Linked DNA regions of Homo sapiens: regions 1 and 2 are each reported to be linked to region 3. The links are microRNA targets in miRTarBase. Many come from high-throughput screens and were not tested one by one. Region 3 holds a microRNA gene; each other region holds the end of a gene's coding sequence.
Evidence for each region. Region 3 holds the annotated microRNA hsa-miR-216a-5p (UAAUCUCAGCUGGCAACUGUGA, at 5,014-5,035, shown strand). A microRNA usually pairs through its seed, bases 2 to 8, with sites in the 3' UTR of a target mRNA and lowers its output. Matches are read on the target gene's strand: a 7mer-m8 pairs with bases 2 to 8, a 7mer-A1 pairs with bases 2 to 7 and ends in A, and an 8mer does both.

Region 1 (9,562 bases), not on the chromosome of region 3:
TCATTTGAGCACCTGAAGTCACCATTCTGAGTTTCACCCCTGGAGTTTTGTTATGAAAACCAGTAAACTCCCCTCTCTCCTCCCTGCCTTTTTTTTTTTTTTCCAAATGGAGTTTCGTTTCTGCAATGGGCAACTGAAAACATCATGATAACAAAGTTGGCTTTAGAAATGACAGAAGTAAGAGTCCATTTGTATTTAGAGGAGTGAGTGCTTGGTGAGCCCTCTGAATACTGAATATTGTAGGTAATTTTAACATAATGGCATTTGTGTATCTAAACATAGAAAAAGTACAGTAAAAGTACTGTATAAAAGATTTTAAAAATAGGATACCTGTATAGGGCTCGTGAATGGGGCTTACAGGACTAGAAGGTACTCTGGGTGGGTCAATGAGTGAGTGGTAAATGAATGTGAAGGCCTAGGACATTACTGTACTACTGTAGACTTTATAAATACTGTACACTTAGGTTACATTACATTTACTCAAAATTTCTTTTTTCAGTAATAAATTAACCTTGGCTTACTATAATTTTTTACTTTATAAACTTTTTGATGCTTTTAACTTTTTGACTGTTTTGTAATAACACAGTGTGAAACACACATTGTACAGCTGTGCACAAATATTTTCTTGGCTGGGCGCAGAGGCTCACACCTGAATTCCCTGCACTTTGGGAGGCCGAGGTGGGTGGATTACTTGAGGTCAGAAGTATGAGACCAGCTGGGCCAGCAAGGCGCAACCCCGTCTCTACCAAAAAATACAAAAATTCGCCAGGCTTGGTGGCACACACCTGTAGTCCCAGCTACTCAGGAGGCTGAGGCAGGAGAATCGCTTGAACCCGGGAGGCGGAGGTTGCAGTCAGCCAAGATCGCACCACTGTACTCCAGCCTGGGGGATAGAGTGAGACTCTGTCTCAAAGAGAATAAAAATAAAAGTAAATAAAATAATTTTTCTTTTTTATATCCTTATTCTATAAGCTTTTTACTATTTTTCATTTTAAAACAATTTTTAACTTTTTTGTTAAAAACAAGGACAAAAACAGAGACATTAGCTTAGGCCTTCACAGGGTCAGGATCATCAATATCACTGTTTTCCACCTCCACATCTTGTTCCTCTGGAAGGTTTTCATGGGCAGGAACATGCATAGAGCTGTCATCTCCTCTGATGACAATGCCTTCTTCTGGAATACTTCCTGAAGGACCTGCCATTTTAACAATTAGGAGTACTCTCTACAATAATGATAAATAGCAAATACATAAATCCGTAATATAGTCATTTATTATCAAGTATTATGTTACCGTTCATAATTGTATGTGCTATAATTCTCTATGACTGACAGTGCGGTAGGCTTGTTTATACCAACATCACCACAAACATGTGAGTAATGCATTGAGCTCATGGCATGACAGCTGCAATGTCACTAGGTGATAGAAAGTTTTCAGCTCCATTGTAATCTTATGTGACCACCATCACATATGCAATCCATCATTGACCAAAACATCATTATGTGGCACATGACTGTATTTTATTGCAAAACTTGGGTCTTAGGATCTCTGTCTGGCAGAGGATTGAGTAGGGGGTGAGAGCCGGAGAGCTGGTTATGAGAAATGAGCCATGAATAATGAGGAAGAGGGAGATGCAGCTGTAGGGATTTAATATCTTCCTTCCCTCCCTTTCTATCACCCTGGGGTTAAGGGTGAAGGAAGAAAAAAGTCCCAAATCTGTGCATCTGAAAAGGCAAAAGATTGGCAAGGGTAGAGTTTGTCCAGTCCTCTTGAAGTCCAAGCAATGAGTATCTGTTGTTTTGCTTACAGAGATTCCTCTTCCCGCTTTGGGAACAGTATCCTTTGGAGTCTGGGTGAGTCCCACCTCCTTGTCTCTTGGTCTACAAGGTTTAGGTGCTGCTGAATGAATCTAGCAGAGTGGACACGTGACCCAGACCTGGCCCACTGGTGTGTTCCATTTTTGGGTTATGGTGATCATAACCAAGTAGGGCTGATCAGAACTACTACAGGGACTTCACCATAGCAACTGGGAAAGAGGTGCTGGCTTTCTACTGGACTTTGAAACTGCCAGAGGGGACCTCATGGAGAAGACCTGCCTCCAAGAGGAGGTTGGCACCAAGAAAATTAGAGACAAGCAGATTGAATGCTTGTTTGAGCCCTTGAACCCAGGCATACGTGAAGTTATATTTGCCATTTGGACTTTATGGTAATATGAGCCAATAAATTCCTTCATTCCACTGGAGTGAAATTCCTCTGCTCACCGTTTATTCCTAGGCGAAGAGTGAGGGCTGAAAAGTATTTTTAAAAGACATTGAATGAAAGAAATCTGTGATCTCATCTGTAAGGAGTGGAAAAGGTGTGTTAATGTATTTTCCCTTGGGCTTCATAATACAGTGTTTAAATTCTAAAACAATCTTAGTAAGTCCTATAATATACTACAGGCATGTAAGAATTAATATAGCTCTTGTGGGTTGGCCTATAACCAATTAACAACCGAACTTTGGAGATACAACCTGATCCCTCTGTCAGAACTTACCTTCATTGAAAAAGAGTCATTGACAAGACTACATCAATTCTGAATACCATACAATTCTTCCTAATGTCCTTCCAGCAAAAACCAGTAAGCTGAACCTAAAGTTATAAACCAAATATTTCCTAAACATTAGGTTGTCCATATTTAAAGATGTGGGAGACATTCAACTTAAAGAACTTTTTATAGTACCACTCATACAAAAGGTACATTGAACATGTGTGTAACCAGAGTGAATATTTTCTTTGAAAATGAAAACATGTTACTTTTTAAATTCAGGAATAACAGTTTCTTAATGCCAATATTTTCCTTAATCAGAATTTTATATTTTCAATGGAGATGAAAACCTAAGCTAATTTGTTTCTTCAGAGTAATACTTTTTTAATGACAATGACGTCTACCTATGGAATCATAAACAAACGTAAGCATACTTGCCTTAGGAAAACAAAAAAAAAATTTATTGAGTTTAAATAATTTCTGTAAAATCTCCAGAATTTCCCAAACTGTGTTCTTTGGAACAATTAGCAGGTGTCTTACACACGTGCGCGCACACACACACACACACAATCCTGTGGCCAAATGAGACTGGGAAATGTTACGAACTCTCAATCCCATTAGCATAATTTAGAATGTGAGAAGTCTTGCAGTAGAAATACTTGTTCACATTTGTTTAGCTCAGCATTTCCCAAAGCTAACTTCCTCAAAATTAACTACAGTATAGCATTTCCTGACCCCAGCCCACCTCCAAACCCCCATTCCTCAAAGCAACTTGTGCAACAGCTTGTGGAACTAGTTCCATAAAGTGAAGTTTGGGAAACACTAGTTTCGTGGCTTCTATTTACATAGATTTTGCTGTCTGAATAATATGTAAGGAATTTTGAGTGACAATTGCACCCATTTGGATATATCTTCAACTGACTCCATAATTAGAAATTTAAAATGCAAATTTTTCAAAAGCAAACTGTCTTTACCATTTACATGCGTTGCTGAAATTTATTTGGTTTTGTGTATACTCATATTACTTTCCAGTGTATCTGGTATAGGTAATAGGCTCAAAAGACCTACAAATACTGAACACAAATACAATTAACCATGTCTACATTTTATGTATATACAGGACCTTGACAATTTTAATATGGCAGATTTACTCTACACTTTTTTGAGGGGAGGAGGATATATGCCTCTTGGGAAAACTGGGATAATAAAAGCTTCTTCACTTACACTCTGTTCAGACGTGTATTATGGATTCATGTTATTATGGGTACAGACATAAAGCCACTGCTATTGAGCCTCAGATGTGGCAGCAAAGAATTAAGAGATCATCACAACCTCTCTCTAAATATAATGAAAATCTAACTTTACAACGCTCCTCTTAAAGGAGCTTTCCTCATGCTACTTGGCTATGCATTAAGTCTTGGCATACACAAAAAAATAAAAACAGAGTAATTCTAAGAGTTCATTTATGTTGGCTGGATTATGAAGATTAACTTCTCAGATGGTTTTCCAAAGAAGTCATCAAATGTAAGTACAATTGAAAATAAAATCCTGAGAAACATTTCAATATTGATAGGAAACTGAAGACAGGATATAGTCAAGACACCACTCTTAGCTGTATAATATCAGTGTATATTGCAAAGGATTAAACAGTTTAATTTTCTAAAGAATATAATAAAGATTTCAGCTTCACTAAGGCATATTTTATGAAAATAATATAATTATTCTCATGGCAGAAGCATACATGCAGAATGTACAGGTTTAAAACAATTTAAATTTTAGGTCATTTGTGCTGAAGATATTTTAATGTGATACTTTGAGTTTATTACTAATTCTCTAAAATATTCCTACCCTAGGTCTTACAAACAGCAAGGTTCCTTTCTCCTAAATAGCCTGTGGCTTCTGTCCCCTGGCCAGTTTACACATGTCTTCAATCTATGTTGTAATTCAGTGCTTTGCCAAATGTGGTGTGCATGTCACTGCTAATACATATGATGATTTTAGTTGGTCCAGAAAGTATTTTCCATTTTAGTAATGAAGGTGATTATTATAAGAAAAGCTATCATTTACTAAGCATTTACTATGTGCTGTCAAGCACAAATTCTAGTATTATTAACTCGAATGGTCTTCACAAGACCACTATGTGGTAGCTACTTTTGAGGCACAGGGAGGCCAAATAACTTGCGCAAAATCATAGAGCTAGACATGGGCAGAGATAAGATTCAAACCCAGGAAGATTAACTGAGAGGTCATGTGTGGTGATTGAACGGATATAATTTATTTGAAAGTGAATTGGCTTAATAAAATTTTAAGAAATGTAACTCTGTGGATATCAAATGAAGTCATACACACTGTAGGCAAATGTCTAATCTTCAGGTAACACCACTATAACACGTTAATTGTGTGTGTGTGTGTGTGTGTGTGTGTGTGTGTGTCTGTGTGTAAGTGGGGGAAGCTAAAGATGAAGGATTCTTATGGGCTGTGAAATGACTATTTACTGGTAAATATCAGGACAGAAATGTGGGTGAAGGTATTGCTGCAGATCCCCCGGAGATGAAAAGCCCCAATTTTCAACTTACTTGCTTTTGATTTTGCCCAGAATATTCTCTCTTGTTCCAAAAGGAAATCTTTCTACTTTTACATGTTTTTAAGGGATCCTACAGTTATACTTCTAGGGAAAATATAAATAATTCAAATAGGTCTAAAAAAGAAAGGCCTTGATTATTGTATATTACAATTTAAGAAGAAAATTAAAAGTAGGAAAAAGCTGACAGTCAGATCAGAAGCATTACAGGAAGTTTCTTGCTCATTTTCTCCAGAGGTTAAGCCAGAATATATTTTTTAAAAGGGCAGAAGTTTAAGGTCTAGCTAGGGAATAAAGACATGTTTTGTCTGACACTTCCCAATTCAAATCCAACATTTATCAAATGATTCTTAAGTAGTGTATTAAAAAAAAAAGGCAACCAGGAGCTGGCAGCCTGGGTATATTAAGCTTTCATTATTGTAAATTTGTATTTTAAAAACCCAATATCTTTTCTGTAAATATGCAAGGGTTTCTCTGACAATTTCTCTTTTTTAAAGCCACCTCTCAATGAAACATTTTAAATAAAACTCCTATATCTAAAATGAAGTCTTGGCATTTGGGAGTTTAAAATCTCCCCAAATTCAGAGGGGGATAAAAAAGGTGCATAATTACACCTCATCTGAGTGTAAGTCAAAAAGTAATCAAAAATGTTTAAAACCAAAAAGTAACATCTTAGAGTGGCATTTTAAACAAAAAAAGTACTTACTGGCATTTTCTAAATTTTCATGCAATTTGTTATTCATTAAATCAGAAGAAAATGTGCACTACCATTTTTTGATATGGCAGATAGCATTCAAAATTGGCATTAACACAATAGGCCACCACTATGTGAAAAACCAAATGCTTTAATGAGGCTATCAAGAACAAGTCGATTATTTCATTGGATACATTAATATCGATCCATAATATACAGTGCTATGGACCATACAGAAATTATTGCTGCATCCAACAGCAGGTGACTATTATTAACATTACAGTACCAAGCATCCGCAAGAGACAGTCATTTGTCATTTTTTATCAAGAAATAGGGCTGTTTTATACTGTTATTGACATCAACTTTTTCCCAGTGCATTTTTCAAAAATATTAATAAGTTCATTCCTTTGTGCTTTTAACTTCCTATGTATTGTATTTGTTCTTATTGCTTTATTGTTTAAAAACAACCAGAAAGAATTTTGTCATCCTATGTATGACCAGGTTGCTTGTATGCTTTTTGGCAAAGTCAGAAGGTTTGGTATTTCCATTGCCCTACTCAGAGGCAGATGGACAATTTTGGCATTTTGGTCACTCCATATAGAGGCCCAACCCCGAGTTACAATTCTGCACCCGGGAATCGGGGGAGTGGTGTGGATCATTTTCTTGTTACAAACAACAAGCCCAAACCACTGCCTCTTGGCTTAGCTAGCCCCTGAAATGAATCCACACTCTATTTGGCAAAAAAGAAATAAATAAAACCACCCCCAAGATTGCAGCATTCTCCTGGGCTTGCTCACCTGCCACCTGCAGAAATTGTCTCTTAAGGAGAAGGGGAGGGGGAGGCAGGCAATGGCAAGGTTAGGAGTTGTGACAGTCAGGGCAGTGGTACAAGATGCCATACTTTCTTTCAACAAAGCTTTCTATATGGTTGCTTAACCATGGTCCTGTTCCCGTGGCCGTAGGTTAGTCAACCTTGCTTTATTTTTAAAAACCCTCAAAATCAGCTAAGGAAAACTAACATCATAGCATCACGATCTTCAACTTTTGCATCCAGCGCCCTCCCCCCCATATAAATATGAAGAGAAAAATAGACAATGCTATGATTGTATCAATGAACACTATGGTACAATTAGCTGTTCATGCAGATTTGCGTCACTATTCTAGGAAAAGAGCTATACAGTTAAGGGGGTTGAAAGAATGGGAACTAATTTTCCCTACCCCCTTAAGAAATAAAGCTATAAAACTGATAGCATCACCAATGTTTCCAAGGATTCTCATTGCCCAGCGTGCATGGGAACTATGCAGTTGATTATTTTCACCTAAACCGTCCATTCACACATCTGACGATCACTCCTCTCTGAACCCTCCATCACCCATCACCAATTCACATTTGACATTTAAACACTTTTTAAAAACCCTCCTGAATAAGGTTTCCTGATGAAAGAAGTTGGCACTCTGTCACTAAAATATATTTAATATTAAAAATATCTGAAGGAAAATTGGAAGCTCTTATATTGTCTACATAGGCACCATGCTACATGTTCGTCTTGACTATAGATACCATCATGAAACTTTCCCCTACATTACAGTTCAGTCAGTGCTAGTCCAAAAAAGACTACTGCTATATTTAAGGCACTTCATTCTGAATGGATATGCTTTATGCCACTTGCTATTCAGTTGTAGGCTGCTACTGAGAAATTCCATTCAACAGCCTGGCTCATAACACTATATGGCATCTGTATAAAACATCTAGGCTTGATACATGTAACACTACTGTTATTGCATAGGACTACACAAGTAGATAATGCACTGAAACTAACTTTATAACATTGCTTCTTGTTAAAACATTGTTATCAAGTAACAGTAACTTCCCAATACAGTATTTCTTTCTTAAAAATAAATTCAACAAGTTTGCTGAAATAAACCCCAATTTAAATGACCATAATGGGCGTATTAATGCTATGGTTATCAATCTCCAAGAATATTGCTATTTTCATGTCCTAAAAATAAATATGTAAGTTTATTCTTTCTAGAAAGCCTGGTTTTAACCTATTAATACTACACCTTAAATGTGTCCAAAAACAGTTCTGAGTGAGACTGTAATTTACAAAATATTCGCAAAGCTGTCTTTTAAATGCAAGACCTTGCATAAAAGTTTTCTTTCATGGGTGTACAAAGAATGCGGAAAACCACCAGTGAGTTGTAAAAATATGGAAAACTTGCCATTTTAAGATGCATATTCTTACAAATTAATACAAATATATTGAAAAGAACAATGATAATAAAGAATCTGTACAAATCAAATGAACAGTAAAACATAATTTAAAAATAAAAATAGTAAAGCCAATTAGAAATATGCCCAGTTCGGTTTTCTTATCAAAAGCAAAAATAAAATAAAAAAAAAGTAAAACATACTTTCAGTGCTCCTCAATATTTTACTTTGAGAGGACATTAATTTCCATTTCAAAATAAAATATCTTATGAAAAACTGGATCACACTCATTGATGAAGAAAACTGTAACAGCACAGAATAAAAGAGAGCAAGATTAGACTTTATATTTCAGAGCCTTGGTCTAACTCCCTTCAGTTTCGGTTGGTATCAGTTATGTTTTCTAACCAGACGATCCTCATGAAAAGGCCGCATTTTTTTTTTCTTTTACAGAATACATATTTCTTTAAATAGTTTGCAGTATAAAGACTAAACAAAGCTAGAGGGGTACTGTATCTTTAAGGCAGTACCAATGAATCAATACATTTATAAAATGGAAAAGGGTTAGTATGGATTTCTTTTCCTCTTTCTTTCTTTTTTTTTTTCTTTTTGGTTGCTTTACATTCTTTCAATTAAACTTTACATTTGATTTCCAAGGAAGTCACAGGCATAAAAATCTCAAATCAAGTTTCCCCTGAATAAAAATGGACAGACATTTCTCTGACGCAAAATCCTCTTGCTCAGAAAGCTAAAGTCTGTGGTGAATTCAGTTCACAGATACTGCACACTTATTTGTACAATACTTTGGAGGCATTTGTAGTTGTAAAATAGAATATACAAGTCTGTTTCACAAAATTCTAAAAATAAAATATATCCTGGGCTATTGATAAAGCATGAAAAAAAATTTCATATTAAAGGAAAATTATCAAGAAAACCCCTTCAGGTAAGTTATTAAATCTACGAATCAAGAAAGGAAGCAGTTTGTGCGAATGCAGTGCAGGGAGGATTCGCTAACAAGTGTGCTCCGTCTCTTCCATGCTCATACTGCTCCTCCGGCTGCTTGTTTTGGAAGCTCCGGGGGACACTGAGGAAAGGAGTGGATCAGTGACACCGACGGGAGAAAGGGTGTCGTCCATCAGGATGTCTTCCAGTTTGGATCCCATTTTTGTGGGGACACTATAGGCTTGGTTGGCCTCAGTCCCAGTTCCGAGGTTGTTGTTGAAGGTGATGGTGCCATCCGTGAGATCGAGAGTTGTTGTACAGGTTAGGTCTGCATGATGCTGAAGGAGGTCTTGGCTGCAGTTCTCAAGAACGGGTTCTTGCTTGATGATCCGATTCACCAAATCTGGAGAGCAGAGACCCGTGGATGGAATAAGGGAAAGTCCATGAGCTCGAGCCTGCATTTCAAGTTCCTATAATAAGAGTAAAGATAAAACACTGAAATAGGCAGAGCACAGAGGACTTTTAAGCCTGTGAAACCACTCTATATGATACTATAATGGTAGATGCGCGTCATTAGACATTTGGCCAAACCCACAAAATGTACAATAC
Region 2 (9,921 bases), not on the chromosome of region 3:
CCTGAGCCTTTAATGACTATACTAGTGTGTGCTTTTTCTTAATCTTGATCCTATTTGGGGGGACAGAGCTGTTTTGAGACCTATATAGGCACACTTATGAGTGGCCTCAGGCCAAATGATATATACGGTGCCTGTTCACCTGCCTTTCAGCATTCCTTTGCCACTCTCCTCAAATCCCTACCCTCATGCTCTCTACTGTCAATCACTGAGCCACCACGGTGTTAAGTTAAAAACCAATGCCCTCCCCCATATGTATCCGCCACCTTCAGTACTCTTATTGATATATTATTGAAATCCTTCAAGATGCCAGGATGAGGGTATGAGGATCAACTGGTAGAGTATAAAACCCCAGGCCATGCAGTGGGTCCCAGGAGTGATGGGGTTAAGGGGAGTGCCCACAGCCCAGTTCACATGAAGTAGGTCACCCTGTTGCGCACGTACCTAGACTATCCCAGGTAAGTGAGATATCAGCTGGTCAAACTAATGGGCTCATCCTGTCTTTCTAGGTGGTTTCATCAGTTTCAATGGCTCCTGGAGGGTCCAGGGAATCCTGGCCATGTCTCGGTCCCTGGGGGATTATCCGCTGAAAAATCTCAACGTGGTCATCCCAGACCCAGACATCCTGACCTTTGACCTGGACAAGCTTCAGCCTGAGTTCATGATCTTGGCATCAGATGGTCTCTGGGATGCTTTCAGCAATGAAGAAGCAGTTCGATTCATCAAGGAGCGCTTGGATGAACCTCACTTTGGGGCCAAGAGCATAGTTTTACAGTCATTTTACAGAGGCTGCCCTGACAATATAACAGTCATGGTGGTGAAGTTCAGAAATAGCAGCAAAACAGAAGAGCAGTGAACCCTTCAGGGGTCTCAGCTGCCTTAGACTAAAGGACTTTCAACACACTGGTCTCTTTTAATTTAGTGAAAAGTGTGGGAGTTGTAATTAGGATCATCCACCCCAGACATGGAATCCCCCCTCCCTGGTGGTCTTAGGTCTATAATCAGTGACGAACAGAGGGTGCCCTTGGCCAATGTAGTTAAGAAACTGGAAAATGGTTTCTTCATGTTTTCCCAACTCTTTCATCCAGTGTCCAAAATATATAAGTAAATAGCTGTAGAGTCACATATATGAAGTGAATAGCATATGTGTCATTTAGTCTCCCTGAAGATTCTTTTCAAGATCCTGTTCAGGGTCCTCCAGGCATCAGCTGTTGTGTCCTCTCTTTGTAACAGTGGACAGGACAGACCACCCAGTGCTGCAGGAGACAGGCCACTGCGTCACCTGTGAGTGGTCAGGGGCTGATGTGGCAACACCCTCTGCCAAGAGACAGAGCTGTCCTGAGAATGCTTTGTCCTTCTGAGCCCATGTTTTCTGCTCAGTAGCAGCTTGGAAGCAGATTTGGAATGGTTTACTATTTTGGCTGCTCTTGGGGACTGCGAGAAGCAGAGAGAATGAGAGACCAGTGGCAACTGCCTGCACAGCAGAGATAACCCTCTTCCCTTGCTTCCTTTAATAGTTAAATAGACTTTGTATACCACCTGACCAGCCTTTGTGCATTTATCCTAATCATGCATGACCGTTAACCTTTTGCTTAGTCCTTACCATATGTAATAGGCAGCTGTTAAATTCACCAACAGATACCCTGATTTTTCATCTTACGTGACCAAGAAACCACGTTAGGGGAAATGAAAAAAGCAAGCCACAATACCATGATTCCTTCCATTTTCAACAGTAGATGAAGGAAATGATACTGAATGAGTCACAGTGTTCCCTGGCAAGTAAGCTGTTTGCATTGAGAAAGGAGTGAGCTGGTGAGGTTACCACCCTGAATTGAGCTCCAGCTGCCAGTTTTTGTGTTTTTCCTTGCCCCTTTCCAAGTGGTTTTCAAGTGTCAGGCAGTGTTCTGAGAAGCAGCAGCCTATAACTGTATGTGTGTTCCTTGAAGCCAGGTGCAGAGTTCCCAGCTACTGCAGCTTGGGATTTGGTGGGAAACTACTGGGATAAGCTTCTCCTTGACAATGGAAAGGCAGCAGTCTTCAACATTTGGTTGCAAATCTCCATCCACATCAGGGAGCTTTCCCCAGGCAAATACAAACCGCCCCGTGGCCTGCAGGCCTGCAGGGGAGGCAGCAAAGGGACCTGGCAGTTGCAACACAGTAAGTCAGGAATTCAAGCGTGAACCCATATTGATAAGTGGGCCAGAATTATTTAGGGGCCTGGCTTGCTGCTCTCCATTTCCTGTATCGCTAATTTATCATTTTTCCAACCTTGGTATTTTATATTATTTAGAGAAAATGCTGGGTCACTCTCTTTGCCTAAGGTGACTCAAACAGCCAAACGAAACTTCCGTTGCCTCCCAGCCCTCTGTATCCACCTGGTTTTGTTCTTTCCCTGTGAGCATTTGTGGTTATAGCTTCCCATATGCCACATTCACCGGCCACCTCCTCGCCGTGGAACCCTGCCCTCTCCCCTCCTGCTGCTGTAGAGTTTTCCCAAAGCAGTGTCCAGGAGAGAATTTGAGAGAGTGAAGAAATTGCCTTGTAGATGTGGAGGGCTGCAATCTGTCTTGATTTCTCCAAGCACTTAACTTTCTTTGACTGCACTGAGAATTGCTAATGATTTCCCATGAGATTTGCTTACTTTTGTATACTGTATTTTCCAGCATTACAGAACCTTGGTTATTGTTTTTTAGCCATAGAATCTTCTAGTAAAAAATATCTGCCACCATTTTAGATTTAAGCATTTGCCTATGGGGAGACACTGAATATGTGGATGTGTGTATTAATATTTGGGGTGGGGACAGGGAAGGGAATGTGGAAAACAAATGCTGGCTGTGAGCAGTGCTGAGATGGCCAGGCCAGGCGGCTGAGTTTGCTTGGAAATTCAGGACATTCTGACTCCTAAGAGTTGCCCCCACCCACCATCAAACTGAAATCAGCACCAATGGTGTCAGCACTTTACAGCCCATAGCCAACTTTCTTTATTTTTAACGTAGCACAAAAATGTATAATAGCAAGGAAAAGACATTTTTAAATTCCGGTTATTTTTATTGTCTAAAATGAAAGCAACAGTGTTTTGATAAAGATGAAAAAGAAAAGCTACTAAATTAGTAAATCAGTGGTTACGTGCCCTGCAGAATTTCTTAACAGATGGTGCTGAGTGCACGAGTTACATAACTTTCTCTCTAATTGAGGTTCACAAGGCGTCTTCTAAATTTTGCTTTGTACAATTAATTCATTTCTGATGTTAACCAAATAGAGTGTATATATCCTACTCCCATTACTGCCTCTTTCCCCCCTACTATGGCTTGTAGATTTTCAAAAGATAGAAGTTCTAGGCAAAACTGTAGCAGTTTCATTAATAGTTGTTAGGATAGTTATATCTAAAATCAGAGTATTTTGTTCCCTTCCTTCTGGAGCTCTCTCTCCCTAGCCCTTTTCCAGCTGTTGGGGATGTGCAGACATCACTCCTGGGGGTGCCCTATGGTACACTGGCTGCTCCCCAGGGACCTGGGAATGCTGAATCTAGCCATTAGGGAAATTGATTTGAGATGTTTGCATGTGAAGCTTCCCTAAGCAGCACTGCCAAAGCTTTGGAATTGTCACCCAAGGCTTCCTAGACTCCCTAGCTAGCTCGAGTTCGAATTGCCAATAGTCCCCATGGTGCCAAATTTTGGGATGGTTTTACAGTCTTTTAGAAATGAAGACAGGAATGGCCATGTGCTTCTGAGACCCCAGCACGATGCCAGGCCCAGGTCTCCATTAATGCAGTGCTCTGCTGCTGCTCCACTGGCAATTTGTACTCTTAACATAGGTTGGGGGAGGGACAGCTAGGGAAATTTTTTTTAATTAATTGTATCTAAAATTCTTTCATCATAGGAATAAACAACACATATAGAAAGCTCCAAAGCTGTTCCCAAGACCTGTATTATTTATTTTATATGACCAACTTGCCCCAAGGCAATTAACTCTGAATTGCTGTTCTAATGTGACATATCTGTGTACATATGTACATAGTACTGGTAACCAGTGGCTGCATTTTATTCCTTGCTGTGGACTGAGGTATTGGCTTCTTGAATCTTGTATATGTCATAAGAATATTATACAGAGAGTGTTATAGTGAAGGATGTAAGCTGGATAATTTAAAACAGACCTTATTTCATACAAGTGTAATTATTACATCATTTTGGGTAAATGGCAAACAGGATTGCATGAGAGTGATGGCATCATCATTTCAATTGAATCTGAAGTGATTCTAGGAAATTGATTCCACTGTTGGATTCTAGGAAATTGAGTCCACTGTTTTCCTTTGCGTTTAATTTCCTTTGTGTTTAATTTGACCACAGAAACTTTTTTGAGTAGCACCTAGTAACATTGCAAGGAACTTGTGTATCAAGGTGTATCTTGATTATCCTGATTTTTTTTGTTCTCTAAGTTGTTGCCAGATCTCTCTTGCAACTGTGTCAATGAAAGGTCTGTGTTTAGAAAAGGCAGCATATCATTGTATATTTGAAACTATAGGAATATATACTTTGTATAAAACTTTTCCAATGATTTCAGAAATTCTTTTTTCCTCCTTTTGACCCACAACTAGACTGTTCATACCCTAATAGTTCCCCAAAATTGCCTTAGCATGTCACACCAGCATTTGTCATCCAGCTCTGGAGAAATGACATGACTGTTAGATACTATGCCTGTTTAATTGCCTCTGGATTAAGTCATTGATAGCTAGACTTTTGAGCTAGTTAGCTGTAGAAATAATAGAATCCAGTGTTTCCCAAAGTGTGTTCCAAAGAACACAAGTTCCAAAGATGCTCTTCTAAATATAGGATTCTAGGATGAAATAAGTTTGGAAAACACATACCATCTTAGAAAGTTAGTGAACATGAGCACATCAAAGGCTCTAATTTAAATGTCCTGTGAGGAGAGAAAAACACAACAAATATCTACTGTCAGTTAGCCCAGTGTTTTCCAGATTAATTTGACCACAGAAACTTTTTTGAGTGGCACCTAGTAACACTGCAAGGAACTTGTGTTCTAAAGAACACCCTTTGGGAAATTCTGGTATATTGAAATATTGCTGTGTTTTCATTCACGATGACTCTTAGTAGCAGTACAATTTGCAACTTAGAAGCATGAGCCTTTCATATATGAAGCTGACTTGTTAATAAAAGCAGTGTTAAGAAGTAGTATGACTTAATATGACCAACAGCAGCCTCATATTGATAGCAGAACAATCCTACTTAAAGCTCTAAACATCATCCCCCCCTTTTTTTTTTTAACGGAATCTCGCTCTGTCACCCAGGCTGGAATGCCGTGGCGCAATGTCAGGTCACTGCAAGCTCCGCCTCCCAGGTTCACACCATTCTCCTGCCTCAGCCTCCTGAGCAGCTGGGACTACAGGCGGCCTCCACCACACCTGGCTAATTTTTTGTATTTTTAGTAGAGACGGGGTTTCACCATGTTAGCCAGGATGGTCTTGATATCCTGACCTTGTAATCCACCAGCCTTGGCCTCCCAAAGTGCTGGGATTACAGGTGTGAGCCACTGCACCCGGCCATCCCTTTCTTTTATATGAATAATGAGCAAGAGCCCTGCCATAGCTAAATATGTCTCAAATTCATTCCAAGATCTTTCCATTGCTTTTTTGCAGTTACCTTTGCTTTTTGGGTTGAATCAAAATGAATATTTTTATATTTCATTACTATATGATATTTAAAAATATACAGAAAATCACAGAAAAGGAAAAACAGAAATTTGATTTTAATTCACTTTTGAAATTTTAACGATTTTTAAAACTAATGATCTGTTATATAATAACTGAAATGTAAACTATTAACAGTTATTTACTTTCTTTCCTTTATTGTCCTCTCTGGATTCAGTGAAATAATTTGAAATCAATTAGAGCTCATACCTTCTAAAACTCCTGTCCCATATCATCCCACCTTTCATGTTTTATGTACATAGTTAAGTTTGGCATGTTATCTCTTGCCTAAAATGTGAGGCCTTCCTGTAGTTCCACAGTAGTTACTCTTGGCTGCAGAAATAGGTTTGGGAAGCTATGAGAGATTACCCCAAAGTCATGGATGAAACAAATCTAGTCGAAAACATGGTACAGAGTGAATTAAGGCAAAAGTCATTAACTTAAAATTACATCCAATATTTAGGAATAGCTCATCCTCTGCACATTATCCAAAATATTTTAAAAAACTAAAAGTAAGATCTCTTAGGCTAGGTGGCGGATTGCAAAGGGCAGGGGGCAGTTGATACCATGAAGCTTCCAATAGATGCATTTCTAAACATTTTTTCTAATATGTAAATTTGCTGATCCTTAGTAATGTTAATGCTTTGTCTATTTGTTATTTTTACCACTGTTGAACAGCAAACTGTTGAGGCTAGGGTTGATTATTGATAATTTTTATGTGTTTAGTAATAACCACAGCATCATACGTACAACTGCTTTAATAAATCCAAGTTAAGGACTTTGAGGAGAGCATGTAGCAAGTATTCATTTTAACAAATCATCACAGACAGTTTCCCTGTTCAAAGCTCCACCAAAAAGCAAGCATGCAGCAAAGGCATAGACTGTATTTAGAGATGTGGTTTCATTTATTCTTGAAGTCCTATAACCTTGCATTATTTAAACACAAAATCCCACCTAACATTTGCCAAATCCAAGTTAATCTCAAAAACCTCCGAGGACATTGAGCACAAGCAGATTACTGTAAGGGCACTGGTGGCAGATTGTGGTGGAGAGAGGGCTGAGTGACCCAGAGCAAAGCCTGCCCGGGTTACTCGCTGCCACTTCAGGAGAGGGATTGTATCAGCTCTCATTACCTTTTGTCATGAGGCAGTTCATAAATTAAATATGATATCATGCATTATCTCAAAATATTTCTATATTAATTAGATAATTCACGATGTAAAACGTGTTCATGCAGAAGCAAAGGCGGATGTAATAGTCAAGTATCAGGGAAAAACCCCTTTAGGATACCCAGACATTAAAAATGTAAAAAGTAGCTTATAAGAAATGTGGATTATCAGATTTTTACTATATATAGGTTGTGTTTAATAGTAATTTCTGACACCTGCACATAGATGAAGAAAAGGCAGTTGTTACCACTTTTCACCATTCAAAAAATGGGCTTGTCTCTTAGAGTATTGGTTAATGCTTTGCTTATTTGTTAATGAAGACAGCATTTTAATTTTAAAGCTTCCTTTTGTAGGACTGATGGCACGGGCAGAATCACATTTAAGAAAAATGGTTTGGAACACTTTTTAATAAAAAATTGTAAAATCAGTTTCCAGTGTGGTCAAAATTAGAATGTAAAGGAAAGCATTTTTAAGAAAATACAGAAGCCCAAATCAAGGGAGAGTAATATAAAAGGAAATATTTTAAATTAAGAAAAGGAGGTGTTATAGTTTATTACATCATGAATTATGCTTTCTGTACTTACGCTCTTAGTGAAGGAGATAACATTGAAGTGAGAAAATGAACATTCTCAGTTATTTGCGAAGTTAGTAAAATTGCAGTCCCTATTCCATTTTTTTCTGATGAAAATGGATACATGAGATCTCATTTATTGCTCTCCTCAACACCTTTACTGTCCCAGATTCCATTCACGTTCCAAATCGTGGACAGTAAAACTGAAGTCAGATAAACACAGTCACAGGTACAACTGGGAGCGAGTTTTAACATAGTGGTAATTTTGCAAATGCCAACATGAATACTAGTGAGTACTCAATTTACGACAGACAATTTCACAAAAACCAACCACAGAGTGATTTGATATTCTTGCTTCTTAGAGAGTTTTCTAATCCATATAATGCAATGGGTCAGGTTGCTCATATGATTAAAAAAATTAATCCTGTAGAAATGATGTATTAGACATCTCTAACCCAAGAAAAAGATGTCTTTTGTATAACTTTTAAATTCCCATTTGTCTATCTTAGGACAAATGATGACTTCTTCGTGTAGTAATGAAAACGTCTAAATCCTGCTCTGTGGAGAAAAGCTAGAACCATGGGACATTAAGCAAGAATACTCCTCTGATTTAGGCTCCCAGACTACAACTAACAGTCTTTATGTATTTATCATCTTGGTTATTGTTTTATCTCAAGCATATACAGTGTGCAGAAAGTAGAATAATGAATAAAATATGACCATGGAGAAAACCCATAACTTTTGCTTCTATTATAGAAAGCAGTGTTTGTTCTTTTTAATTTATTACATGTTCACATTGAAACATTAACATCTACAATATTGTCTTTCAGTTTACTCTTCAATTACTAAAGCAAATGATTTTGATTTATAGCACTTACACAACTGCAGTTCAGGTCACAGAATTGAAATCTATTTGATAATGTCTCAGCATTCTCATGGGCAGCCAGGAAAAAAAAAAAGAGAGAGAAAGACAAATAGAAATTTTAGTGGGTTCAGATAAATGATTATTCTGACAAACCTGGAAAATAGTAATTAAACAGTTCATTCCAAAAGACCCCAATGTAAACTCTGCTCACATACATAATTTGTATAAGGAAAATGTATGAGTTTTTTTCTTAAAAATAAATAGAAGCATCATTGCATTTATAACAGATTGATCAATCTTATGAACAGATTACATTGGGAAAGTCACTATTATTGCTGTGTGTTTGTATATTTTATTCTTTCCTTTTTTGTGTGAGCATCTACTATGTGCCAGGCAGTGACTGTGTCTGAGTGAATGTATCCATGGTGAGCACTCAGGCGCCATCACTGCCTTCTTGGGGCTTACACCCTATTGGGGTGTCAGAGATATTATAACACTCAATATTGACCCAATGGGATGAAAATTGTTATCTTCATGATTTCTTCCAATGGGCTTAGATTTGTTGGGACAGGGCAGAATTAGAATAATTATTTCTCACATATAAGAGTAAGTGATATGAGATTGGGAATTTCTTGCCAACACTCAAGCAAACTGCAGAAGATAATTACTCCATTTTACTAGCTCACCTAGTTTCTGAAGGATGGGGTGGGGAGTGAGACATGGAGCCTCTGGGGACAAGGATAGGGGGGTGGGACTGTCCCAGTGGAGGGTGCCACTGGAAGCCTCCACCCAAGTGGGCCAGCAGCTGTGCAAGGGTGCAGCAGTAGGCTGGTGAAAGCCAGGTTGTCCAGATCTTTCTAGGGGAAGAGAAGGATTATAGAAAAGGAGAAAAGGGAGGAGCAAGAACATCTCTCCATGGCCTATTTTTATTTTTGTTCCCAAGAGACTAGTGTAATAACCTTATGCCCCCAAAGACAGCCCAGAACTGAGTATCTTCAGTGTTCCTGAGTGTAAATCAGTGAATCTGTTATATAGAAAGTTAACATTTCAGGAGCACAATTATTTCCTGATTTCAAATATGAACAGAAGACTAAATGTCATTTTTTTAAATCATAAATTTGGTATCCATAGTTACTTTACACATTCCAGAGTCTAAGCATGGAATTTAAGTTTTGTATTTTGAACAAAAATAGCAACATCTGTTTTCTGTATGGCAAAGAAAAACTAAATCCCAGACTTTTATTTTTAACCACAGAAACCATCACTTCTTTCTAAATTATTTGCTTGCCTGCTCATTTCCCCTAAACATCTCTGTTTATGCCAATGGCTTTTTAAATCCAAATAATACTAGTTATTGCCAAATTGCATTAGAATCCTATTGAATTAGAATAATTCATATACTTCATATACTAGGCAGTAAATGGTTAGAGACGGTAAAGATCTGATTGTGATCAAAAGTAGGGTTTTTGTTTTGTTTTTAATCATGAGCACATATAAAAGGAAATTCAAATGAAACCAAGCCAATTTCTGATTTAGTAAGATTAAAACCATAGATGGAGCTCAGTTATTAAGGATGGAAAGGAGGAAAGCACAGAGTGAGGAGAGAAAAAGGGGA
Region 3 (10,175 bases):
TTAAATTGACAATGGGGATGCATTTGCTTCTAGAATAAACACCTTCTTATAGGATGTGAATCCTGCCAGATTGTGGCATGGCACTCAACTCCTCAAAGAAGCCATTGAGTTCCAGTCAGGCACTGCGAGAATTGCAGAAGAAATCTCAAACTTGGCCCCTGCCTCCAAGAAGCTGACAATGGGTAAGTCTACCCTTTTGCACTCTTGCCCAACATTCTGTCGTGGAGACTTACAGGCTTACAGGCTGCAAGTATCTAATCATCTTCCATGCTTTCATGTTTGTTGCCTTTAGCATCACTTCCATCTTCCCAAACCAAGTATCCTCTTAGAAAACTCTGACAAACAGCCAGGCGTGGTGGCTCACGCCTGTAATCCTAGCACTTTGGGAGGCTGAGGCAGGTGGATTGCCTGAGCTCAGGAGTTCGAAACCAGTCTGGGCAACACGGTGAAACCCTGTCTCTACTAAAAATACAAAAAAATAAGCCAGGCATGGTGGCGGGTGCCTGTAGTCCCAGCTACTCAGGAGGCTGAGGCAGGAGAATTGCTTGAACCCGGGAGGCAGAGGTTGCAGTGAGCCGAGATCGTGCCACTGCACTCCAGACTGGGTGACAGAGCGAGACTCCATCTCCAGAAAAAAAGAAAAAAGAAAACTCTGACGAACTTAGACTGACATTTCTTCTCTGTTGCAAGAATCTTCAGAGATCTGGATTCTAAACACTGTCTCCTAAATATTTCCAGGAAAAACTTTTCTCCTTCTTTTACTGTGGATGTACTCTACCAGAGAAGGTAGGTCCAAGCTGATTCAGCCATTACAACTTCAATTCCATGGAGCAGATCAGTGGCTCATGTCACTGAAGTTAATTATTATTATGTCTCTGGTCTGCAGAAAGAGCACCTCCAAAATTTTCTTTTTTTATGAAAGAGAAGTTGGCATAAGTTTAGTCTTAAGGATTGCAACCCAATTACATATAGGCAGCCCCCAATGACTATTCTAACAGAAACTACTTTATTTCTCTCCAATTACTCATACTATTATCATTATCCAACCTACTAATAATGGCTTTCTCTGAGGACATTACTTATCCGCTTGGGTCACAGGGATGTAGAATGCACCATATCTCTTGAAGTGGAGCTGGCTTCTTTTTAAGGCTTTGCAGAAGCTTGAACTAGAGAAGGATAAAGCCTTTTTATGGGAACCATCCTTTGTATCAGTAATACTTATGTTCTGTTGTTAATTGTGACTACCTATTCAAGAATGTCTCCACCATTCAGAATGTGGAAAACATGCCAGTGGGAAGCTCAGCTCAATGGCAGTTCCGGCTTTGGCTTTGGACTCGACACCCACTTATGCACACTATGACTCAAATTCCCTTCTCGTAATGCCTTATCTCTAGACACCACTCTCCATGAATCCCTTTCCCTGTTCGTAATCACTTCTAATCCTCATGTTCCTCTGTCTGACCTTCTTTTCCCACAAAAATCCAGAAAGTATGCACTTAATAAACAAACAAATCCATTGACAAAGATAGATGTATTCAGGGCAGCTTTACCAAAATTCAAACTGGTATTTAACACAATTCCAGCCAAAATGCTCATTTGTAACTCCAGCCAACTATTTTATTGAAATCAATTTGAAGCCAAACATTTTCCAAATGCCTACAAGGCTGCAAAAATAATAAATAATGTTTGGCTATTTTTCAAACCTTGGAGGATACAGAGTCCCAGTCCCAGAAATAACAAAAAGACAAGGTGAAAGGAAGCAGACTTGAAAAGAGTTATTGCTTGGATAGTGACTCTCAACCAGAAATCAAAGAGCAGAAGTTCATTTAGGGAAACTTCAGGTAGTTATCATAACTGCTAGGAAATTAGGATACAGAAGAGAGTAACATTGAGTGGATTCTCATGGGTCCTCTCATCTACCAGCACTTTTTCAGTTGATTTATATAGATTTTCTACCTTTGTTTTGAGTTAATTTCCAAAAAGTAGGATGCAAAAGATACTCAAATATAACAAAATTAATACTACTTCAGCACTAGCTTGAGTTTGAGTATCCAAAGACCTGAGATGTTTCAGAATTCAAGGCTGAAGTTTGAGGGAGGACATGTCTCAGATGATGGAGAGAAAGAAGAGAAAACTGAATTGCAAATACAGCTTGTATCAACTCTAGATACCATAAGGTTCAGAGGAATCAATAACATCATGTAAACTCAGAAGCCCTTCAACTTAGAGATTGAGACATCTCTTGACCTATATACTAACTACCCTAGTACATTGGTAATAAACCAGTAATTCAAGCAAGATACAGAAATGGATATGAAAAAATTCTAGGAAGGAGGAAAATAACAAAAAAGACACAAGCATAAAAAATGAGTGGGATTTGGATAACATTTGTAAACTCTAGAGGTGGAAGATTTGTAAAACTAACAGAAAAAGTAATTGAGTTAACCAAAGGACATAGGAGTAAAATTAAAACAAAATAAAATTAGCATTTATGGAGAATCTGTGTATCAGATTCTGTACTAGTTAGACATTTTCACAAACACCACATTTAGTTCTTAATCTCATGCACAAGTATTACCAACACAGAAACTGAGGCTCCAAGAAATAAAACAATTTGCCTTAAAGCCCACAGGTAGTTAAGTATTAGAACCAGGAGTCACACCAAGGTCCACTTCACTCCAAAGCTCATGTGCTTCCCGACACCCCACACACCATTCCACAGCCAAGATAGCTGCAGGAAGGGGTAGTCCTCCAGGTTTTCAGAAGATATCCAAATAATTACAGCTTTGAATAAATAACACTAGTCTTCAGGGAAATAGGAAAATTGCCACCATCTGAACAGACCCAATGACCAAACTGAAATTTATTACTCTCAAATACAAATCTATAGAGAGTCTCTAACAGAACTAAGATCACAAATGCATACATTGCGGTGCACCCAAAATATGCATATAGAGACATCTTAGATAATATCCTCAGAATACTTGAACAGAATGTATAGATAGTGTTAGAAACAGCTTACTCCTTGATACTTTGCTACTGTATTTCAGTTTATCTGGCCTGTGGACTATCTATCCACATTAATATAGCTTTGTTGCCAAAACAACTTTGTATCAGTTTCTTCCTTTTTCTTTTTTAAATGCCCATCACAGCAACCCACTAAGGTAGGCAAGGCAGAAACGTATATGTCTTTGCTTCCATTGAGAGCCCACCTCCCTGTGCAGTTGTGGACATGACAACTTAAGATTAATAAAAAGCTGTCTCATCTTCCACATCAGCATATGATGTTCCCATTTATGATCTTTTCTTAATGTTTTCTAGCAGAGGGAAGAAGAACTACATACTCCTGTCACTTCTCTATGGTAACTTTTCACTATTAAACTTTCTAGAGAGAAAGGAAAATCAAATATAAGATTAAGAGAAAAGAAAAAACTGAACGTCATTCATGTTGCTCTGAGAAGCCCTTGTTTTTTGATTAAGATAAAATCTGCTTATTTTTAATCCTGAGCAATTTGACTCCAGAAAATAAACTTAGAACAATATTTAAAAAGTTAAATCCTAATGATGAGACATTCTTATTTTACAAAAGTAGCTTTGTACTTAGGAGTCCATATGAGGCACAAGATTATATTCAATTGTTCTTTCTCAATTGTTTTGTAACTTTATATTTACCTGACTTTTAAAACGAAAAGCCACTTTTCTAACTCTGTAAATTACCACTCTCTTAATTGTGTCAAGTCTCAATTATTAAAGGACAAGTTATGAGCTGAAATCCATAATTCTTTGCTTCAACAAACATTTGATTTAGTTTGACAAAATTTTTTTGAGCACTTATTAAACATCAGATGCTAAACTGAGAATAGTATAGTTGAGGATATAGAGATGAATAAGCACAGTGCCAACACTTGGAAGTTTGCAGTCAATGAAGGAGAAAGCATGTGAGTGAGAAAACACCATTGTGTATTACAGGTGCCAAAAAAGGGAGACTGGGGAGAGAAGGCAGTGTGTGATAGTTTTCAATGTGTGACTGTCACACAAGGGGGTGTGTGTGTGTGTGTGTGTGTGTGTGTGTGTGAAAGAGAGAGAGAGGAGGGAGAGAGAAAGAAGAAATAATTCCAAGTATGGGCAAACACAGCTCATTGGATTCTCAGAACTTGTTAGAGCTGGAGTCTACAATGTAGAGGAAGAAATGGTCTAGTATGAAGTGAAGCTGGAGAAAGGCAGTGGAAAATCTCCACCGAAGTGCAAATCGCAGCCACCAAAACCAGACCTACTGAATCAAAATATAGAGGTAGGTCCTGGGGATCTACATTTGTAACAAGTTTCCTATGTGCTTCTTACACTCACTCAAGTTGAGATGCCATCCACGGCAGATGGTGGGGAAACTCTGAGGGCGTTTCCTCTTCCTTCCGTTCTTAATCATTATTCTTACCATTGATTAGCCCCACCCAGTGGACTGAGGGGCTTAGATCATGGCTCAGTCTCACTTAGCCATGACAGTGATGTGGGCAAGAGGGGAGGACATACCACCATCTATGAAAGGTAATAGCCACCGCTATTGACACATCTGGCCATTTGGTGAGTATACGGTCATTACTTTTTCAACGTAATTGCTGGTTTTCTTGTCTGAGGACAAATTTTAGAGTGTTTGGCTTTGATGTTTCCAAGTTCTCTATAAAGCTTGTTTAAAAAATCATTTTTAGTGATTGGTTTTACATTCACCTGTACTCCTACTTGGCTGTTTCTTACTATATATGGATTAGAGTAAATCCTTTCTAAATGCAAAGATTATACTTTTATGACATTACATGCAATATAGCATATGCCAGAAATCTGTGAATTCAGCAAGAGGAGTAGCTTGATAATGTCGCCTCAAGAAAAATGCAGAGGGGTACATCAGGGCTTCTGCTGGTGCACTCGATGTATGAAGATGTGCTTCCACCTGAGGCAGCCACGTGCCTCTGCTCATACACTTTCTCTTGCAGGTCTAACACGGATGGCTGTGAGTTGGCTTAATCTCAGCTGGCAACTGTGAGATGTTCATACAATCCCTCACAGTGGTCTCTGGGATTATGCTAAACAGAGCAATTTCCTAGCCCTCACGAATCAAAAGACTTGCATGGCAACCAAAATTAAACACCAAATTTCTATTTCATGACCAAGACGGGGGGAAAAGTTTCGATGGTTACTGTTTCATGCTCAACCTCTTTTAATCTTAGTAAAGTCTTTTTCTAAAGTGCTGTTGTGCTGGAAAGGAAACCAGCCTTGGGAATTAATTTGCCTTTATTGGATTCGCTTGCTACTTACTGCGCTCCTTCAGTGCTACTTGGTTTTTTAAAAAATTGCAGCCAAGGGAGTTTGGGTGTTAGAAGCTGAACCCAAAATATTTTCCCTCTGAAAGCTCCTCCCACTCTCTTTGTGGGTGCTACTCCATCAAATTCCAAACAGTCTAAAAGAGGACGATCTCCTGCCAGGCCCTCCTCAAACTTCAACTCCCCAGATTATCACATTTAATCGCCCTTCCTCATTCCTTCTGTAAGTGTTTCACATTCATCTGCCCTAAATAATATTGAAATTTAGAATCAACTATGGCTTAGGCTGAGGTTGCCATGAAACTTTTGAGCTGTACCCAACTCTAATTCTCGGTGATCCCTGGAAACAGATAATCCTTTTCCATAAAAAGAATAAGAACAAATGTAATTCTTCAGGGTGAAAAATCAAGGCCAGTTATCTTCCTCATTCACCCAGTAACACAAAACAAATCAGATGAACCAAATTTATAATTAAATGTGGGATAACTTTAACAACAAAAATTATTAAAATGCTATTTCCAAGGTCTTGACTGGCACATATCCCCTCAGGTATCCTCAGAAAGAGAAGTCTGTATATCTCAGTTTGATTAAATTACATTTCTGGGCCGGGCGCAGTGGCTTACGCCTGTAATCCCAGCACTTTGGGAGGCTGAGGCAGGCGGATCATGAGGTCAGGGGATCGAGACCATCGTGGCTAACACGGTGAAACCCTGTCTCTACTAAAAATACAAAAAATTAGCTGGGCATGGTGGCGGGCACCTGTAGTCCCAGCTACTCAGGAGGCTAAGGCAGGAGAATGGAGTGAACTCAGGAGGCGGAGGTTGCAGTGAGCCAAGATTGCGCCACTGCACTCCAACCTGGGCGACAGAGCGAGACTCTGTCTCAAAAAAAAAAAAAAAAAAAATTACATTTCTGTATCAAGGCACATTAGTATGACCTATTAGATTTCCTTGCCAGAAATTGATGTTGAGCAGTAGGAGGTAAGTTTGAGAACTAGTTATTCACATACTAATAGCACAAATACTGAACCATAAGCCAGGAAATAACTTACCTCTGGTAAGGAGAGGGCTTCGTATTAATTTTCAGGACTCATTAAGGGCTCTTTTAAGCTGCTGCTGAAACTTTCTAAATGTTGTCTGTATCCTCCTGCTAGTTGAAATAATCATTTTTTCAAACATGAAAAAATTCCCAATTCCAATTTTTGGTGACCATTTTTCAAAAAGGGAAGAAGATAAATGTAATTAAACAGAGCAGGAAATATTTTTTGAAGAGCTGAGTACATATGATGCATCAGGAACCATGCTTGTTGCCTTGCTTGTGTGTACACTCAGTGCACTCTTGCAGTCTCCAGATGTTCCCAGTGCTCTCTGCACATAGAGGCACAGGGAGCTTTTGAAAATGTCAATATCAAGGGCTGTGCCACTGATAAATCAGAATGCCTGGGATGGGATCTGGGCATCTCTGTTTAAGAGGCACCCAGGGGATTGTAATGTGCAGCCAAAGGTGAGAATCACTGTATTTGAGCTCAACAGGGAAGCTGTGGTTGGAGTGCAGTGAGAAAAACTGGAAGGAGAGGATTAGAGGGTATAGCTAGGTAGACTATGGTAAGAATTTGGGGTTTTAGTGTGAGGGACTCCACAAGCAATTGGAGAGTTTTAATTAAAGAAGTGGCATGACTTATTTACCAGTAACACAGTTTAATAGACTTTTCTTAGAATCTAACCATGTATAAACTTTAAAGAAAAATAGTTATTGTGGACTGCAAATAACTTCCTTGTCATTTAACTTTAGGAATGTAAGACCACAGGATAGGCAGATTCCAACCAAGAGGAAAGCTAGTATGAAAGAACAAAAAGGAAATTAGCTCAGAAATCAGGAGCCCCAACTCCTTTAGGCAACAGCTTGAGTCACTGTTTCAAGAAAAAAAGAAAATCACTTATCCTTTCAACACATAGATTCTGACTTTTCTTTTAAAGCTTAATAATTTTAGAATTACATCCTGGTAGTAATTAGCATCAAAATAAGTGAAGGATTTGGCATCTCTGTCAATGAGACATTCAAAATATCATTTGTTAGACTGGGTTTATGCCAGTCTTCAGTAAAAATAGAGTACAACAGGATTCCCACCCTTTTAGTAAAGAGGCTCTGTCTTGCTGATGACCGAAGACCTTGTTAGGGCTCCTGGGAACTAAGTCCTCAGCATTCCTAGCTCATCATCTCATTCACCAGCACCTAGAGCGTGGCACTTATTATCCCTTTTCCACCTGTACCATGAAGACTATGAAAGTCAAGGTGCAAGCAGCCGGCCTCTTAATCAGAGCAAACAAGCAGAACCTACTGCCAGTCCGCAGGACTAGACCTTAGATGTCTGCTGAATCTGTGATCCTGAGCTTTTGTTGAAAACCTGAATTATATTTCTGCCTGGTAAAGATGGCCCCAGGCTCCAAATGTTTGTCTTCTGTGGAAATCCAGATTAGAGTTTTCTGTGGCCCTCCCCCATGCTGTACCACTAAATGATGAACACTTATTGAATGCCCAGAAAGTCCCACTTTTCCCTCCTTTGGCAGCCTGCCCTCAGCCCAACCAAAACAATAGCAAAACAAAATAAACAAAAATGGCTTCTGTTTTTAATGATCACTGCAAGATTCACCATGAAACTCCTATAGATGAGTCTCTATAACCGTCTTATCCAAGCCAGAGCTGTCTATCATTAAGGTAGAGCAGGACAGAAAGAGCTTTTCTGGTTACAGACTTAATTCTGTATCAGATAAGTCCCCTCAGGATCCGTAACCCTGCAAGGTACCCAATTTGGGCTCGTCACCTGGCATGGACATACCAGGAGGATCTCTCTGGAAAAACTCTTGAAATACCCTGGAAAGGGTGATCCTCTGCTTTTTAGTTATATTATACACACCTCAATTACTGGGAAATACTCTTCAGCATATACAATGCTCTAAAGATTGCTCAAAACTGTGACCTGAATTTTAGGATTCTGTTTTATAGTGGCCAATCTCAGTTGTATTGCTTACTATCATTTTGCATTGTCTACAGGCATGTTAGTTATATTTCCAAACTCAAGTAGTGATTAGTTGGCCAGAGAAAAGCAGAGTTTCTGTTCTGTGATTTCTCTGCGGTGAAAGGAAATGAAAACAGGAAGTTACAAATGTACTCCTTAAAGACCTATAATAATATAGTGACATTCAACAAGCAACATTCTTGAACTACAATAATTACTAGGACTTGAACTTCTATAGGTGCTCAATTCTGGCCTTTTTCCTTCTAGATCATCACATTCACTTACCAAGGTCCTGTTTGAGATCACCTGTTTCCAATAACTCAAATAGTCTCTGCCTAGGGTAGGGCACTGGTTCTAAAATTATGGCCCCTGGACCATATCACTAGAGAAGTTGTTAAAAATGCCAATTCTTGGGCCCCATCCCAGATTTACTAAATCAGAGACTCTAGGTGTGGGTCTCAGCAATCTATATTTTAACAAGCCTGTGGATTATTGCTCAACTTTGAGAGCCACTGGCCTAGAGGACCTTTTCACCCACCTTGATGAATCTCTCCTTCCCCATCTGATTCCCTGCAGTAGTTTGTAAGGAAAGATGACATTTTAATATCCAGTCATCCCAGCCAACTGTATCCCAGTCCTTGGGACTTTAAAACTTGCAGTCTTATGCTGGACACTCCAGATAATAGCCAAAAGAAGCCTAAAATTATGACAAGACTCCTGCCCTGTTATTTTTAATTAATGACACTACCTGAGGAAGATCACATAGAGCATATTTGCAACAATCAAATCTTAAGAAAGCCTATTCTTCACCTACTTTCACTATCTTATCACAATTCATCCCAGCACACAAATGACACAATACAAACTGGTTTCCCAATCACCACAAGAGTTGTTAACCCAAGTCCCTAATCTGTCAAATCTTGCTGCAAAACTCAGAAACTATAACTACAGAGAGACAATACTAACTAGAGGGGAACATCATGATGAACTGGCTTCTCAGGTGCTCCTCCTGGGGTTCCTTCTCCAGTAAGGAGTCTTTAGGTTTTCTAAGACCACTCTGCTTACAAGTCTTTGGCTTCATTTGAATACCCTTTAGAAAAGATATACAGATTTTAGGGAAATGTCTGGTAAACAATTGAGATACTGTATTTGATCACATATAAGACCTCTAGAGAGAGAAACAATAAGCTAGAAATTATGTCCCTAAGATACTTTAATGTACTCCAAATTTTCACTATCTGTAAAATGAAAATATGATTAACCTTAACTCTCAAGCCTATTTGGAATCCAGATAAATGAGACAGAAAGCCAAAAGTGGATTCTTCAGTCTCCATTTCTATGATCTTCACCTCTCAGCTCCACCTCTATTCTACTTCTGAATCCCCTACCCAATTATTTCCTACCCCTTATGTCCAAAATAGCCCATGTAAACTGGAGTCCCACTGGACAGAATGATGAATTTGCTAAGTAATATTAGAGTCCTTCATTCATTCTATATTTGGAGGCATTCTAGAGGATCAACTAGAATTTTCTAATGAGAGATTCTCCAAAAGATGACTAGCAAAATTATTAATAAGGTAGAAAACCTGTAACACTCTCAGAATTATAGGTTTGGCCACCACATTCTTCAAGTTGTTACATGCCTCCCATATGTACTAATTCTAAATCTAACTTTATCATTTCAGTGAGCTAGAATTCTAGTGTGGTTAAAGTAATATAATAAACAAGAAAACTTTTGGAAGTGATGAATATGTTTATTACCTTGATTGTGATAATGCTAATATCAGTGTGTATATATATATATATATATATATGTCCAAACTTACCAGATTATATACATGAAGATT

Region 1: the mRNA of MITF is a reported target of hsa-miR-216a-5p. Seed matches in the 3' UTR shown: 7mer-m8 at 8,686-8,692.
Region 2: miRTarBase lists PPM1L as a target of hsa-miR-216a-5p. Seed matches in the 3' UTR shown: 7mer-m8 at 2,625-2,631, 7mer-A1 at 6,063-6,069 and 7mer-m8 at 8,923-8,929.

What each region holds. Positions count from the first base shown.
Region 1 is chr3:69,964,708-69,974,269 of GRCh38, reverse strand. MITF (melanocyte inducing transcription factor) reads right to left here. Exons shown (of 10, transcript NM_001354604.2): 10 at 5,938-9,423. The coding sequence ends at 9,022. Among named protein-coding and RNA genes, the nearest start is that of SAMMSON, 30 kb to the left of the region's middle.
Region 2 is chr3:161,068,305-161,078,225 of GRCh38, forward strand. PPM1L (protein phosphatase, Mg2+/Mn2+ dependent 1L) reads left to right here. Exons shown (of 4, transcript NM_139245.4): 4 at 507-9,921. The coding sequence ends at 853. Among named protein-coding and RNA genes, the nearest start is that of B3GALNT1, 32 kb to the right of the region's middle. RefSeq lists an enhancer at 1,392-1,441.
Region 3 is chr2:55,983,880-55,994,054 of GRCh38, reverse strand. MIR216A (microRNA 216a) reads left to right here and starts at 4,996; the gene lies at 4,996-5,105. All of the region lies in intron 2 of MIR217HG (MIR217 host gene), which reads left to right. All of the region lies in intron 3 of LOC105374690 (a long non-coding RNA gene), which reads right to left. RefSeq lists enhancers at 8,516-8,605, 8,636-8,695.